2 linked regions of the Homo sapiens genome follow. The protein of the gene in region 1 purifies or fractionates together with the protein of each later gene. This does not show direct contact. Each region holds a gene or a part of one and is shown on either strand. Other genes may lie near its edges. The genes, in order: WWTR1 and AMOTL1.

Evidence for each region.
Region 2: the proteins of WWTR1 (region 1) and AMOTL1 purify together in Homo sapiens (affinity purification with mass spectrometry; 2 studies listed by BioGRID and IntAct, with this or other methods). This does not show direct contact.

The regions. Positions count from the first base shown.
Region 1 is NC_000003.12:149,521,833-149,529,111, reverse strand, and holds part of WWTR1 (WW domain-containing transcription regulator protein 1), read left to right. Parts: intron 1-1,142; coding exon 1,143-1,276; intron 1,277-2,986; coding exon 2,987-3,099; intron 3,100-7,279. UniProt on the Homo sapiens protein: Transcriptional coactivator which acts as a downstream regulatory target in the Hippo signaling pathway that plays a pivotal role in organ size control and tumor suppression by restricting proliferation and promoting apoptosis.
Region 2 is NC_000011.10:94,799,082-94,806,360, forward strand, and holds part of AMOTL1 (angiomotin-like protein 1), read left to right. Parts: intron 1-308; coding exon 309-1,230; intron 1,231-1,257; exon of another isoform or gene 1,258-7,279. UniProt on the Homo sapiens protein: Inhibits the Wnt/beta-catenin signaling pathway, probably by recruiting CTNNB1 to recycling endosomes and hence preventing its translocation to the nucleus.

The sequences.
Region 1 (7,279 bases):
TGTAAACATACAAAAGTATTCTCTGGAAACATCAGCAAATTTGAAAGGAATTTGATGTCTGGTTATGTTTGTCAAGATGGAGAGACTCCTGGAGATTATACCTAGAGAAAGTAGTTGCAGTCAGTAAATTTGTAGCCTTTTGGATAGACTCTTCTTAGCAATGTAATGCTAGCTTTTATAAAATAATGCTTGTATTATTTGTTTCTGCTAATGAAATCCATATGCTGTGAAACAGTTACTTGTCTGTGGGATTTGGATTGGATCTACATGGTTCCCCAACCTTCAGCATTTTAGTCAACAAAGTAGTCAAATAGATTGACTTTTTTGTTTTTTTGTTTTTTTTGAGACAGCGTCTCACTCTGTCACCCAGGCTGGAGTACAGTGTCGTGATCTCTGCTCACTTTAGTCTCAACCTCCCAGGCACAGGGCTCCTCCTGCCTCAGCCTCCCAAGTAGCACCACACCCAACTAATTTTTGTATTTTTTGTAGAGACAGGGTTTCACCATGTTGCAGGCTGGTCTCGAACTTGTGGGCTCCAGTGATCCGCCCACCTCGACCTCCCAAAGTGCTGGGATTATGGACGTGAGCCACCACCCCTGGCCACTGATTGACTTTTTAAAGTAAACTTTCAACTCATTGTTTTGCTTTCCTGTCTGTAAACATAAAACTGCCAGATGCAATTTAATGTAGAGCCTGGACTCTGTAATTCCACAGTTTTACTGGCCTGTAAGTGGCAAAGACCAGAATGTACTTTATAGTCCAGAGGAGTCTGATTGCTTTGATTGATGTAGATTTGGTTTGAGAACCTGAGATAGAAAAAGCCTTGTCTCTGACAAAGTGTTTTGAGAGGGCTTTCTATGATTTGGGTGTTTAAATAATTGCATGGGTGGGATGATTGCAACATTAAGTGCCCTTAGATCAAATAATAGCTGAGCTTCCCATTAACTTTGTGAATGTGAAGTGACTTATGTCTGTAAGACTTTCTTCGGAGAAAGAATACTAATGGTTGCCTGGTGATTTTGACTTGCTGGGAGTAAATACACAGTGCTTTGTATTTGGTGAAAAGTTTTGATGTGAAGTACACTTTGCTCCATGCCTTGTGACAATGAGTGCATGACTCTTGCTTCCCATTCTGACTGTAGGAAGCTGCCCTCTGTCGACAGCTCCCCATGGAAGCTGAGACTCTTGCCCCAGTTCAGGCTGCTGTCAACCCACCCACGATGACCCCAGACATGAGATCCATCACTAATAATAGCTCAGATCCTTTCCTCAATGGGTAAGTTAATATTTGGGGGCCACTTATTTTTATTCTCTTTATTATGTGATCTAGACTATAATAGGATCTTTGTTTACATTGGGAAGAGGTGGGGAGCTTGAGGGTTGAGGGTGAGAATAAAGGGAGGAAGTGGGAGGAGCTGGCAGAAAAAAGAAAAGCAGGGGAAATCATCTGCCTGTTAAAAAATTTCCAAATTAAAAAATTGGTGATAGGACGTAGAGTAAACCCCTAGTCAAGAATTTGAAAATGGGCATGAACTTATATTTTTAAACATGATGGTGTCGTCTAGTACTTATACTTGGAAGAATCTTCTGGTTTTATGTAACCAACAGGGGATAAAAGCATGCCATATGGCAAATTGAGAACAGAACAATTAAGAGATTATGTTCGGCCAGGCATGGTGGCTCATGCCTATAATCCCAGCACTTTGGGAGGCCGAGGTGGGCAGATCACCTGAGGTTGGGAGTTCGAGACCAGCCTGACCAACATGGAGAAACCCTGTCTCTTCTAAAAATACAAAATTAGCAGGGCATGGTGGTGCATGCCTGTAATCCCAGCTACTCGGGAGGCTGAGAATTGCTTGAACCTGGGAGGCGGAGGTTGCAGTGAGCCGAGATTGCACCATTGCACTCCAGCCTTGGCAACAAGAGTGAAACTCCATCTCAAAAAAAAAAAAAAGAAAGAAAAGAAAAGAGATGATGTTCAGGGTGAAATGTGAATAAGATCTATAGTTTAGTAAATAATATTCTACAGTGTCAGATTTCTGATTTTGGTAATTGCACTATGGTTATGTAAGATGTTATCACTGGGGAAGCTGGTGAAGGGTACATGGGAACGCTCTGTACTCTTGTTGCGTCTTCTATGTGAGTTTAAAATAATTTCACAATTTAAAAAGTAATTAAAACAAAGGAGCAAAAGGGAAAGAGAATTTAGCCAGAAATATCTTCATGAGCAGAAGTAGTTTTTAAATCAAATAAAAAGGGCAATTCTGTATTTCCTGTGCCTTTTATTCTGCCCTTGCAGAGACGTCTGGCAAACAAACAATACAATTATGAACATTATTAAAGATAGAGATAAAAACAAATAGTAGCTGAAATAATAATTAATGGAGGTTTTAAATTGTTGATTTTAAAGTATTTGAAACACAGAGAAGTACAAAGAATAACATGAATTACCCATGTACCCACTACCCAGATTTGCCATAGTTTTATTTAATCTTACTTTTTAACAAATAAAATATTACAATTAATATTTGAAGCCATCCCCCCACCACTGAAATCTCGTTTCTTTTCCCTTCTGTCCCCAGTGGTAGCCACTATTCAGAAACTGGCGTGTGTCCATCACACAGACTTTTATACCCCTTACTGCCCGTTAGTGTATGTATCCATAAGCAATATTCAACATAGTTTTTGTTTTTTTTTTTTAAAGTTTTACATAAATGGTGTCATACTCTGTATGTTGAAGAATGTTCAAATGGTTATTTTGAGGTGAAAAGGAAATCAATGTCAATTTACTGTGAATGGCCACACATGATTATTTTCATTTTCATGAGGGTATGTATTTCAAAATTAAAACTTTCCTTCCTCCCTAACCTGGAAAGTTGGGCAGCATGGCACAACTGCACTAGTTTAGAGCTTTTGTGACTGTGTTTTAATTTTGAGATTTATTTAGTGGGCTCATATTGAAGTTTCTTCATCTTTTGCTTTGCAGAGGGCCATATCATTCGAGGGAGCAGAGCACTGACAGTGGCCTGGGGTTAGGGTGCTACAGTGTCCCCACAACTCCGGAGGACTTCCTCAGCAATGTGGATGAGATGGATACAGGTAGGAGCAAAGCCTGCAAGCACTTACAATGGGTTTGTGTTTTTTAAATGATCTCTTCGGTTATCTCAATTTTATTTTTCTTTTATTTTATTTTTATAATTTCAACTTTTATTTTATATTTGGGGGTACATGTGCAGGTTTGCTACATGGTTATGTGATGCCGGGGTTTGGGATACGATTGCTCTCGTCACCCAGGTAGTGAGCATAGTACCCAATAGTTTGTTTTTCACCCCTTGTTCCTCCCCACTCCCAGTAGTCCCGAGTGTCTGTAAAAATGTTGAAAAAAAAAAAAATGGAATGCTTCATGAATTTACATGTCATTCTCATGCAGGGGCCATGCTAATCATTCCAGTTTTAGTATAGGTGCTGCCAGAGCGAGTACGGTCATCTCAATTTTAAAATCCAACCAGAAACACTCAATCTCAACGACAACATAAAATAACAGCTGAAAAGCCACTGAACCCCCAGGCACTATTAATAAACTGTAGCCCCTTCCTCATAGATTATACAAGTATAGTTTTACATCTGGGCGCAGGATTTTAAATTCTGTTGTTTTTTTTTTTTAATTCATCTTTGCTCCATATAGTCCCTTCCTCACAATTGCATCAAGACACCACTGTTTGTTTGCCATGTTTCCACATTGGGGTATTTATGCTGTTCTAGTTTTTAGTTGTAATATATGGGCCACCCTTTCTCCTGGAAAGTGACACTGGTTTATAGTTCTAGTATCCAATTTTTTTCATGTCATTCACTGCATTTGAAAAGCAATTGGCAGTGGGTATTTGGAATGCTGAGCAACTCAGAGGATTCAAAATTGTCACTTCCAAGTTCCAACATGGTAACGACATCCTCCCTCAGGAATTAAAGAGAAGAGAGTCAGGGTTACTCTTACCTTGTCCCCAGCCTGTGCATCCTTCAGGTCCAGCCTCACCAGGCTTCCCGATTACCTTTCTTTTTCTCCTTTTCTCAAGGAGTGAGACTTCCAATTGCAGAAACTGAAGTTAGTCTTATTAGCCTTACCTAGACTTAATTATGAAAGTCATAAACTCTAAGAAGATATTCTAGAACCAAAAATAAATGACAGCCAGGGTGTCCACTATTTGGAGTTATTCATGAAAGTTCCTTCTCCATTATCATTGACGAAAGTAATTGTTTTGTGTTGAAAATAAAAAATTCCTTCCCCCAAAGTGTTTGCCATAGTGCCTGTAGTTTTTTACACTCTACTCTTTGATGGCTTCTCTTTGTGTTGTGAGTCTAAATTGTTGGAAAGATCAAGAGTCAAACTCATAGCCAGGTGTCTTACAAATGCAGTACATTAAAGCTGCTCCCCTGGCGTCTTTCGTGTAGGTTGTCATCTTTGCATTGAGAAGATTGCAAAGACTATCTTGTGAGGAGTGACACAGGAATAGTTTGCACTGATTGTTTTACTGTTCTTCAGTTTATTACTTCAGTTCTTCCCCCACCACCACCCCCTGCCACCTTTATCTCTCTCTCTGCTTTTTGAGTGTGAGATTTATTTTGCTATCTTTGGAATAGCCTTAGGAAGTGGCTCCTTCCTATGTTTAATAATTCTTTACTTTCATCTTCTAAACACTGGGAAGCCAGTAAGGATAAAAAGCAAAGTTAAGGAAAAAAGCTCAGGAGATCTAAATCTAAGTTTGACATTCAAAAAAAAAAAAAAAAAACCATAAAAGAGGATGGATTCTACTCTATGTCTCTTTAAAATAACCTCAAGTGGGTAAGTAGGGAGTGTTTTATTTTGAAGCCGTAATGTGGAATTAAATGACGTCCTGAAAAGAACATAGTTTTAGCCAACAGGCAGCCTGATTTGAATCCTTGCTTCTCCATTCCTAGTAGCGCCTTTGGGTAAGTTGCATAACCTCCGTGAGCCTCAGATTTCTCACCCATAAAGTGGGAGTGATATGCTCACGGCAGAGTTGTGAGGAGTCATGAGATCACAGAGACCAGCTCAAAGTGCTCTTCTCCAGTAAGAAGACTGATGTCATACATACAATGGACTTGATAATGTCAGAGTGCCACGTTAACCTGGTTAAGTGAGAATCAGCTCATTGAGTGTGGGAATGTGAGTGCCAAGTTAACCTGGTTAAGTTAGAGTCAGCTCATTGAGTGTGGGGCCACCTCTGTGAAGTCTTTGTAGGAACTGGACATACATCTTCTCAAGGGGAGAAATGTTAATTATACAGTAGCAAAATGAGGGAAGCTGTGGGGGCAGGCAGAGCTCAAGTGTGGCTAGAAAAGATCTATCAGGCCTGTGGACCACGCGCTGGCCACATGCTGAAGGGAAACGAGCCAGCTGAGCACTCCATTTGCAAAACATACATGGCAGCAACAGCTGGGCTTGGTGCGAAGATCCAGTAAAGGGAATAACATGAGCAAAGGCTGGGAAATCATCCATCCTTCCAGAATATTCTGCAGTAATCACACCCTTTTAAGAATTGCCTTGTGGCTGGGCACGGTGGTTCACACCTGTAATCCCAGCACTTTGGTAGGCCGAGGTGGGTGGATCACCTGAGGTTGGGAGTTCAAGACCAGCCTGACCAACATGGAGAAATCTTGTGTCTACTAAGAATACAAAATTAGCTGGGCGTGGTGGCACATGCCTGTGATCCCAGCCACTCGGGAAGCTGAGGCAGGAGAATCACTTGAACCCAGGAGGCGGAGGTTGCAGTGAGCCGAGATTGTGCCATTGCACTCTAGCTTGGGCAGCAAGAGCGAAACTCCATCTCAAAAAAAAAAAAAAGAATTGCCTTGTGTTTGTCTCTTCCACTTTTTAAGTGGATAAACTGCAAAGACCAAAAAGATTACTATGAGATTGCAGAGCTGCTTCTATTTTAAGATTGTTAACTTTAATGAAGAAGCTTAGCCAGTATCCTCATGCCTTCCATCCTGAGAAGAAAGGATAAGAGTAATTTTTTTTTTTTTTTTTAATACGGGGTCTCATTCTGTCACCCAGGCTGGAGTGCAGTGGTGTGATCTCAGCTCATTGCAACCTCTACCTCCTGGATTCAAACGAGTCTCGGGCCTCAGCCTCCTGAGTAGCTGGGATTACAGGGGTGCGCCACCATGCCTGGCACTGTTTTTTTGGGGTTTTTTTGTTTGTTTGTTTGTTGTATTTTTAGTAGAGACAGGGTTTCACCATGTTGGCAAGGCTGTTCTTGAACTCCTGACCTCAGGTGATCCACCCACCTCGGCCTCCCAAAGTGCTGGGATTACAGGCATGAGCCACCACACCCGGCCTAGGAATTCTTTAAAACAGAGATTTTGCTTGGCTAAAAATTATATTCTTGAGTATCTGAAAGTTAAAATGGGAAATTAGTAAAAATGAATGATTCTAACTGGAGATGAAGAGAAAAAAAGGCATCCAGCACATTAGATCAGATTGTTTTTTAGACACTTTTTAAAGCCTCATTTTTATCTGTTACACTCTAGTAAGTAGAAGAAAGTTATTTTGGATTTTGTTTTTTCGTTTAACGTTATTTTTCAATATCAGTAACACTATATTGAGGTCATATTGTTGAATTTGATTTAATTTTTCAGTTTACTACCCTTTGCAATGAAAATACTGTAAAATGTTACCCAGGAGTCATTTATATTTTGTGACTTCTAGAAAAGCCATTGTGTTTTGCTATCACCAAAATCCAAATTGGATGATGGTTCCTTCATCATTTGGAAGGATATAATTTTTCTCCCTGGAAAACACAGATTGCTAAAGTGAACTTTCGGCAATTTTGCTTAAAATAGTGAAACTTCCCTACACACGTTTCAGGAAGGCTACTGCACTTGTAACACACAAAAGATAATTTAACAAGTTTTTAAAAAATGACGTTATGGTGGAAGCTGGCCTTAGTTATCAATGCTTCTCAATTTTTGAAGTAGATATTATCTCTTCAGAAAATTGTTTGGGACTTTTTGAATTAACCTGTTGTTTTGATATTGTGTAATTAATAGTGGCTGAAGACCTGGGTTTTTCTTTCTCTCAGGACAATGAACATTTATTATATTTTTGTATGTATATAACTTTGTATATATCAATGACACCCAGAGCCATGGATATGTGGCAGACACTATATGGCACTTTACTCTAACTTTTGTAAAAGGAGCATATGATCCCAATTTCTAGATGGGTAAACTGAGAATCAGGCAGGTTAAGTGTGTCTAA
Region 2 (7,279 bases), on another chromosome or scaffold:
AAAGACTTGGGTATATTTATGTGATGAAGAGAAAGGACCGGTGGGGAGATTAGAGAAAAGGGAGGGGTTGAAGGATGGAACAATGTTTAAGAGGAAGCAGAGGAGAGGGAGTGCAGAATAGTAGACTCGCTTTGAATTGGAGAAGAAAATTCCATGAGACATTGCCAGGTAAATGGAGGTGATGATGCATTTGAAATCTTATTTTTAAATGTTGCTGTAGTTAGAATGTTAATTATGTACCACATAGTCACAGACATATATCTCCTGTGGAGCTGCCTGATATCTTTTTTCCTATGTTTATCTTTTAGTTGAAGATCCTCTTTGTAACTTCCACTCCCCAAACTTCCTGAGGATCTCAGAGGTGGAAATGAGAGGTTCCGAGGATGCGGCAGCTGGAACAGTATTGCAGCGGCTGATCCAGGAACAACTGCGGTATGGCACCCCAACCGAGAACATGAACTTGCTGGCCATTCAGCACCAGGCCACAGGGAGTGCAGGACCAGCCCATCCTACAAACAACTTTTCTTCCACGGAAAACCTCACTCAAGAAGACCCACAAATGGTCTACCAGTCAGCACGCCAAGAACCGCAGGGTCAAGAACACCAGGTGGACAATACGGTGATGGAGAAACAGGTCCGGTCCACGCAGCCTCAGCAGAACAACGAGGAACTGCCCACTTACGAGGAGGCCAAAGCACAGTCGCAGTTCTTCAGGGGGCAGCAGCAGCAGCAACAGCAGCAGGGGGCGGTGGGCCATGGTTACTACATGGCAGGGGGCACCAGTCAGAAGTCCCGAACTGAGGGGAGGCCCACTGTGAACCGTGCCAACAGTGGACAGGCGCATAAGGACGAGGCGCTGAAGGAACTGAAGCAGGGCCACGTCCGCTCGCTCAGCGAGAGAATCATGCAGCTGTCCCTGGAGAGGAATGGGGCCAAGCAACACCTTCCCGGCTCGGGGAATGGAAAGGGCTTCAAAGTAGGAGGGGGGCCCTCCCCTGCCCAGCCTGCAGGTAAAGTGCTGGACCCTCGGGGTCCTCCACCTGAGTACCCCTTCAAGACCAAGCAAATGATGTCCCCAGTCAGCAAGACCCAGGAGCACGGACTTTTTTATGGTGACCAGCACCCCGGGATGCTCCACGAGATGGTCAAGCCCTACCCTGCTCCTCAGCCTGTGAGAACAGATGTGGCCGTCCTGCGGTACCAGCCACCCCCTGAGTATGGGGTAACGAGGTGATTATCAACTGCAGACGTTTCGTGCGGCTTTTCAAAATTCAATAGTCATGTTATTAGCATTTATTATTTTCAGAGCAGATTAGGTTTTTGTCATCAGGCTTTTTTCCTTATGCATGATATTTAATAAACCACTTTGTGGCCAGAATATATAGGGTGAAATAGAGTAGAGGGCAACTGAGGGATTTTCTCCAAACATAGCAGCAGGCAGTTGGGGATTTATGAGTTTAGGGGAGGGACCTCACTTGTTAGCTGTCCTTGGGAGCTCTGCCTAGTGGCCTGGCAAAGTAGCAATTTTCCAATGGCTTTGTGGAGACCGTCCAAACTCCTGGAACATATTATTACCAGAGGGTTTTATAGTCTTTTTTCATTGTAGATTTTAAAGGAAAATGTAGTCTGAATGCTAGAATGGAGGAGTTAAAGGGACTGTAGAAATCACATAGTCCCATCCCTCACTCAACAGATGAGAAACTAAAGCCTGGAGAGATTAATGAATTTCATAGACACAACTCTGAGGCAGCTGGGGGCTACACTCAAGTATCCTGACTGCCAAAATCTATTCACTCCCTTGCCCTAATTCTTCCTACAGCCTTCACTTGTATTCTTCCAGTTGATTGATGGATTCAGCAGCACCTACTGAGTGTATGCTGTACTCTGAAGCCCTGTTCCTGGTTCAGAGATGGGGTCCCTGCCCTTCAGGACCCTATAGCATTGTCTTGGAGGAAACCAGCATCTGAACAGATCATTGCCATTCAATGTGCTGTTCTAGGAGAGAAATGGGCCGAGGATGCTAGGGTAACAGGTAGGATAGTATAACTCACAACTGGAGGGGCTGGAGAGAGCTTCCCAGAGGAGGTGACATTTGAGTTGGAACTTGAAGGATAAATCAGAGTTGTAGGGTAGAGATGAAGTAGCAGTATGTGCTGTGTGAGGGAGTGCCGTGTCTTCAGACAAAGAGGTCATGAGGATTTTTGTCTGGAATGAGTGGCAATAATGCAGAGCACTGGTGGGCAAGGGTGTGGTAAGAAGTGACAGGAGATATGTTTGGACAGGGAAGTTGGGACCCGTTTGGTTGAGGTATGTTTGGACAGGGAAGTTGATGATGACGGTCTCTGGGTGTCGTATTAAGGAGTTTAGAATGTATCCATAAGCAATCGGGAAAAGCGGTGTTCTTAGGTAGGGATGGTAAGTGGATGTCTAACAGCTGATTTTGGTGGCAGTGCATGAATTAGAGGAAAGGGAGCCCCACGCCACAAGGAGCTCCAGGGATGCTTTCAGTAGTCCAGATCAGAATTGGTGAGGGTGGCCAAAGCTTGGGCAGGGAGAATAGAGGAGCATTATGTGCTAAGAGAGGTAGGGAAATAGAACTGACAGGGTTTAGGGATTGGTTAGATACAGAAATTCTGGAATAGGGATGATGGAAATAAGGGAATTACGAATCAAACTCTCAGGAGAGAAATTGGGTCTGAAGATCACACTTTGGGAGTCAGAAATGTTTAGATGTTGCTGACATTGAAGGAGGGGCAGGGAACATGAACAGAAAAGACATGTGGCCACTGCCTATTATTGGATGTGTCATTTTCATGAAGGGCTTTATTATCTGTTTCTAAATTGAACAAGCCAGGGTTTTCCCAAGCGACCTCAGTGGCTATGTGCAGGACATACCTTGGCTGTACATCTTCTGAAAAAGGAGAGGCTGGAGGTTGGCAGAGGGAGAGTGGCCTGATCTGCCACTGGCTTCCCAGCACTGACACATTTCCCCACATTAGACTGAGAATGCCAGCTCAGAAGCAGCATAACCAACTGTGAGATCTTGGCCAGGCAGGAGAACGCATTCTCCCTAAGTGGGCATAACCGGACTCCTCCCAGGAATCCAAGATGGGATCCAGGAGGCTCTTCTTCCCCCTTTATAGCTCCTTGATCAAATCCCTGGTATTTGCATCACAGTGATTTACCACAGTTGTTTAAAATAAGCCATGATGTTATTCCACCATCATACCAGAGTTTGGCTTATTATATTTCACCCTTTTCCCTGATAACTTAACTCAGCCTCTAGAGCTTGATAGAGGGGAAGCTATCCTGAAATGAAATCCCCTTCCTCTTCTTTGCTTTACTATTTGTAAAGTAATATGTACATACCGTGCAATGCATACAGTGGATCACTTTGCCTTTTGTCATTTGGTAATAGGTGTGATGTGAGGTGGGAGAAATGGTCAGGGGAGGAGGGGAACACTTTTGGAGGTCATTTTTCTCAAAGTTATGACGTTAGAAAGAAGAAGAAATGTGTGAGGGATTTGAGCTGACTGCCAGGCTTGGCAGCTGGTTAATATGACGCATCAAATGTCTCAGGAGACGTAACAGACAGGCCATTGAGGCTGGGTCCCAGAGCCACAAGGCCCCTTTGTGAACAGGGCCATGGCTAGCCAGCATGGCTCCAGTGGTGCAGCCCTTGGCTGACTGGGTAAACAATATTGCATCCACACCAGCCCTGCTTCAGACACATTTAACGTGGCCTGAACTCGAAGGATTGGACCTGAAACTCAGCAGTGTGTCATGTTCAACTTGCCTGTGACCCAGAAGACAAGTAGGGCCCCTTTCATTTCACTGACACATTATCTTGTGCTTAAAGGGTTATCTGTTTGTCATTGATCGTGATGGTTTAGGAAGCTGCAGGCCATTGTGTACATACGTACAACCACATAGACTCTTGGACTAGAAAGAGACGCCTCTGATGGAGATCATGGAGTCCATCTCCCTGGCTGGTGCCCATACTGGTGGGCTCAGTATGTAATGAGTACTCAGTAGTTTGGTCCAACCCATTACATTGTTGAGACTTCACTCCTTTTTGCCTAGAGGTAGAAAGCTCCAAAGAGACAAGTGATAGAACTTATGAGAAGAATAAGAATTTGAGTTTTTTGTGATCACTCTTGACTCACCATAGCTTACAAATTCTCTCACCTGCTCTGATGCGCCCTAAAGATGGAGATGTCTGGTAGGTGATTATAAGGCCCTTTAGGCCCCTTTCCTGGGAACCCTCTGGGAGATGAGGCCTTGACCTCGTTGACTTGACCCACCTTGGCCCATGTGGGTGAGCTACTGTGGCTGGTGGGGATGGGAGTGCTAAGGCAGCAGGGGCCTGCAGGGAACATGTGTTGGCTAGGGATGAAGGCTCTGGTTTTCCTCTTGTTCTACTATACTTTTTCCTCAACCTGAAAGTGTAAATGGATAAGAATGAGGACAAGATGGGAATTAAACAGGTTGTTACTGTGGAGAATTGTGACCACTCCCAACCCCCCAAGCAAAGGCAAGCATTTGGATATTACTTATGACTCTTTGTGGAAACAGACCACTTCTAGAAGTAGTGACTTGGCTTATGCAATCTGCACTGTTAATGGAAATGAATGCATGAATGAATACCAAGGGATGATCTAATTTTTATCAAAGCAGTTTGGAGTATATTAGTCAACATGCATATTTGTTTTCCAAAGAAATCCATATTTCAAAACATTTGGGAACTAGAGATGCTAAAAAAATTACTTAAAATATCCTACTTTCCTAATACACCCACTAACATTTTTCCTGTACAAATTAATTTTTTCACATTATAATGATAAATTATATTGTTTAGTATCCTCGCTTTTGAAAGATAGCATTGTATCACAAGCTTTTTTCCACAATCCTTTATTTTTTCAAAACCAACATTTTTATTGCTGTATAATATTTCATAAAGTATACCATTTACACCATTTTCTCCATGATAGAGCGAACATCATCATGCATATCAAATTATCTATGTTTTGGCTTCCTTAGGAATCATTATTTAGAAATGAAATTATTGGGTAAATTATAATAAACATTTAAAAGCTTCTGATGCCAGAAAACCTTGTAAAAATATTACGGTGCCTGTTTTACTGCACTTTGACCAACGTTAGTTATTACATCATTATAATTGCAAAATCTTTGCTAATTTAATAGGCAAATAGTGTTTTGTTGTTGTTGTCTTGAGATGCCTGTCGCTCAGGCTGGAGTGCAGCAGTGCAGTCACAGCTCACTGCAACCTCTGCCTCCCAAGCTCAAGTGATCCTCCCATCATAGTCTCCCCAGTAGCTGCGATTACAGGCATGTGCCACCGTGCCCAACTATTTTTGTAATTCTTTTTTGGTAGAGTTGGGGTTTCACTATGTTGGCAAGGCTGGTCTTGAACTCCTGGGCTCAAGCAGTCTACTCACCTTGGCCTCCCAAAGTGTTAAGATTACAGGTGAACACTGCACCCTGCCTGCAAATAGTCTTAACTTCCTATTTGAATTTGTTATAACTGGCTAGGTTAATTTTGTGGGGAAGGGAGTATGTTTTGCTATTTAGACTTAGTTGATCTCAAAAATAGGCTTTTTGTGTTTCTTGTTCCTAAGACTTATATATTATAATGGACTCAGCATAAACTAAAATCTGTTTTTTCTAACACTTGCTCTCATTGTCCATTTTCTAGAACTCTGTCTTCACCCTTAGCAGGTGAGAATGGAGTAGTTGTGGTGGTGGTAGTCATAGCAGGAGGGTGAAACCTTCACCGAATGCTGACTGTGTGCCAGGCACTTTGTGTGGGTTACTTATCTTCCTTAATCTTTACAACTCTAAAGGGTGGGTACTATTATTATCACAATTTTTACATACAATAAAAACTTAGGCTTAGAGAGGGAGGTTAACTAACTTGATCAAAGCCAGCAGCTTGCAAGTGCAGGAGCCAGGTGCAGACCTGGAATGCTTTGCTGCACACTGCGTCTCCCACGAGTGTAAACACTTGGCCACTGTACTTTGCAGTGGAGCCGCAGATTTAAGCTTTCACTTGGGGTCACTAAATCTGGTGAATTTCTAATCAGATTTATAGAATATATCACATGTGATGTCCAGCCTGTGCTCTGCCCACCTTCTGTTTTTTTCAACAGGACCAGAATTCTGGTGAAGTATTCTAGACTCTAGGAAGAAAGCTGTCTGGATACCTCTTTTTCTTCAGATATCTGGGAAGACTGTCACAGACCAGACTTAATGGGGCTGACAGCTGTGGGTGTGGGCTTTCGTCTGTCTTTTGGTTTGCTTTCATTTGGAGGTGCTTTCATTCCTAGGGTGAGGGTTGTGGGTTTTCTTTAGATATTTTTATTAGAATGTTTCCATTATGGAAGATGATGAATACTAACTTAAGACTAATTTGTATGTTTTAGGCAGTATCCATTTGGAAAAAGACTAAGAATGACTCCTGTCAATGAAAAGAACACTTAAGGCTCTGTTTCTACTCTCTCAGCCTGTACATTGCCTTTTTGGCCTTTATCTTGGCTCAATCTTGTCTGTTCAGCATAGGGGATTTGATTTACTAGCTTCCGGGAAGTGGAGAGAAGAGTGGTAACTGTTTATTAATATTTTGTTCATCTATGAGTACGTTAATTTGATTTTTTGGTATGTAGATAGATATTTTATAAAAGCATGACATGGTAGTGTTTGGCCCAGCCCTCCCATCCTAGGTTGATGAAAATATAAGATGATGTCAAAGCCAGAGGAGCTGTGGATTTCCTGTCGTAAAGCAGACTTCTTGCCTTGTCCCAGGACAGCCATCACCACCACCTTCTTTCTCATCAGGGCAGGGGGCTTGCAGTGTCATACATTAAGTGAGGGAACCTGTGGTATGACCTATTCCCCAAATCACTATTTTCCTTTAAAAAAATGCATTATGCATTTTCCCCCAGAAAACCTGATTTCTTTTCATTGAGGATAGAGTCAGAGGCACTGACATTCTCTGGGTACATGCCCACTGACAGTGCAGGGAGGAGGGACAAGTAAAGTGGGGGCAGCCCAAGAGTACATTTGGCAAATTAAAGATAACGCCTGTCCTCAGGGAACCCTGTCAGCCCAGCAGTGCAGCAAGTCCAGTCTAAACATGAACAAGCATGAAGATATTTGCTAAATCACAGGCCTTACTCCTAGTGGGCTCTGTGTTTGGAATGTGCCATATTACAAGAAAGAAGGTTTGATGGTCCTGTCTTACTTTGTGTTGGACATGGCT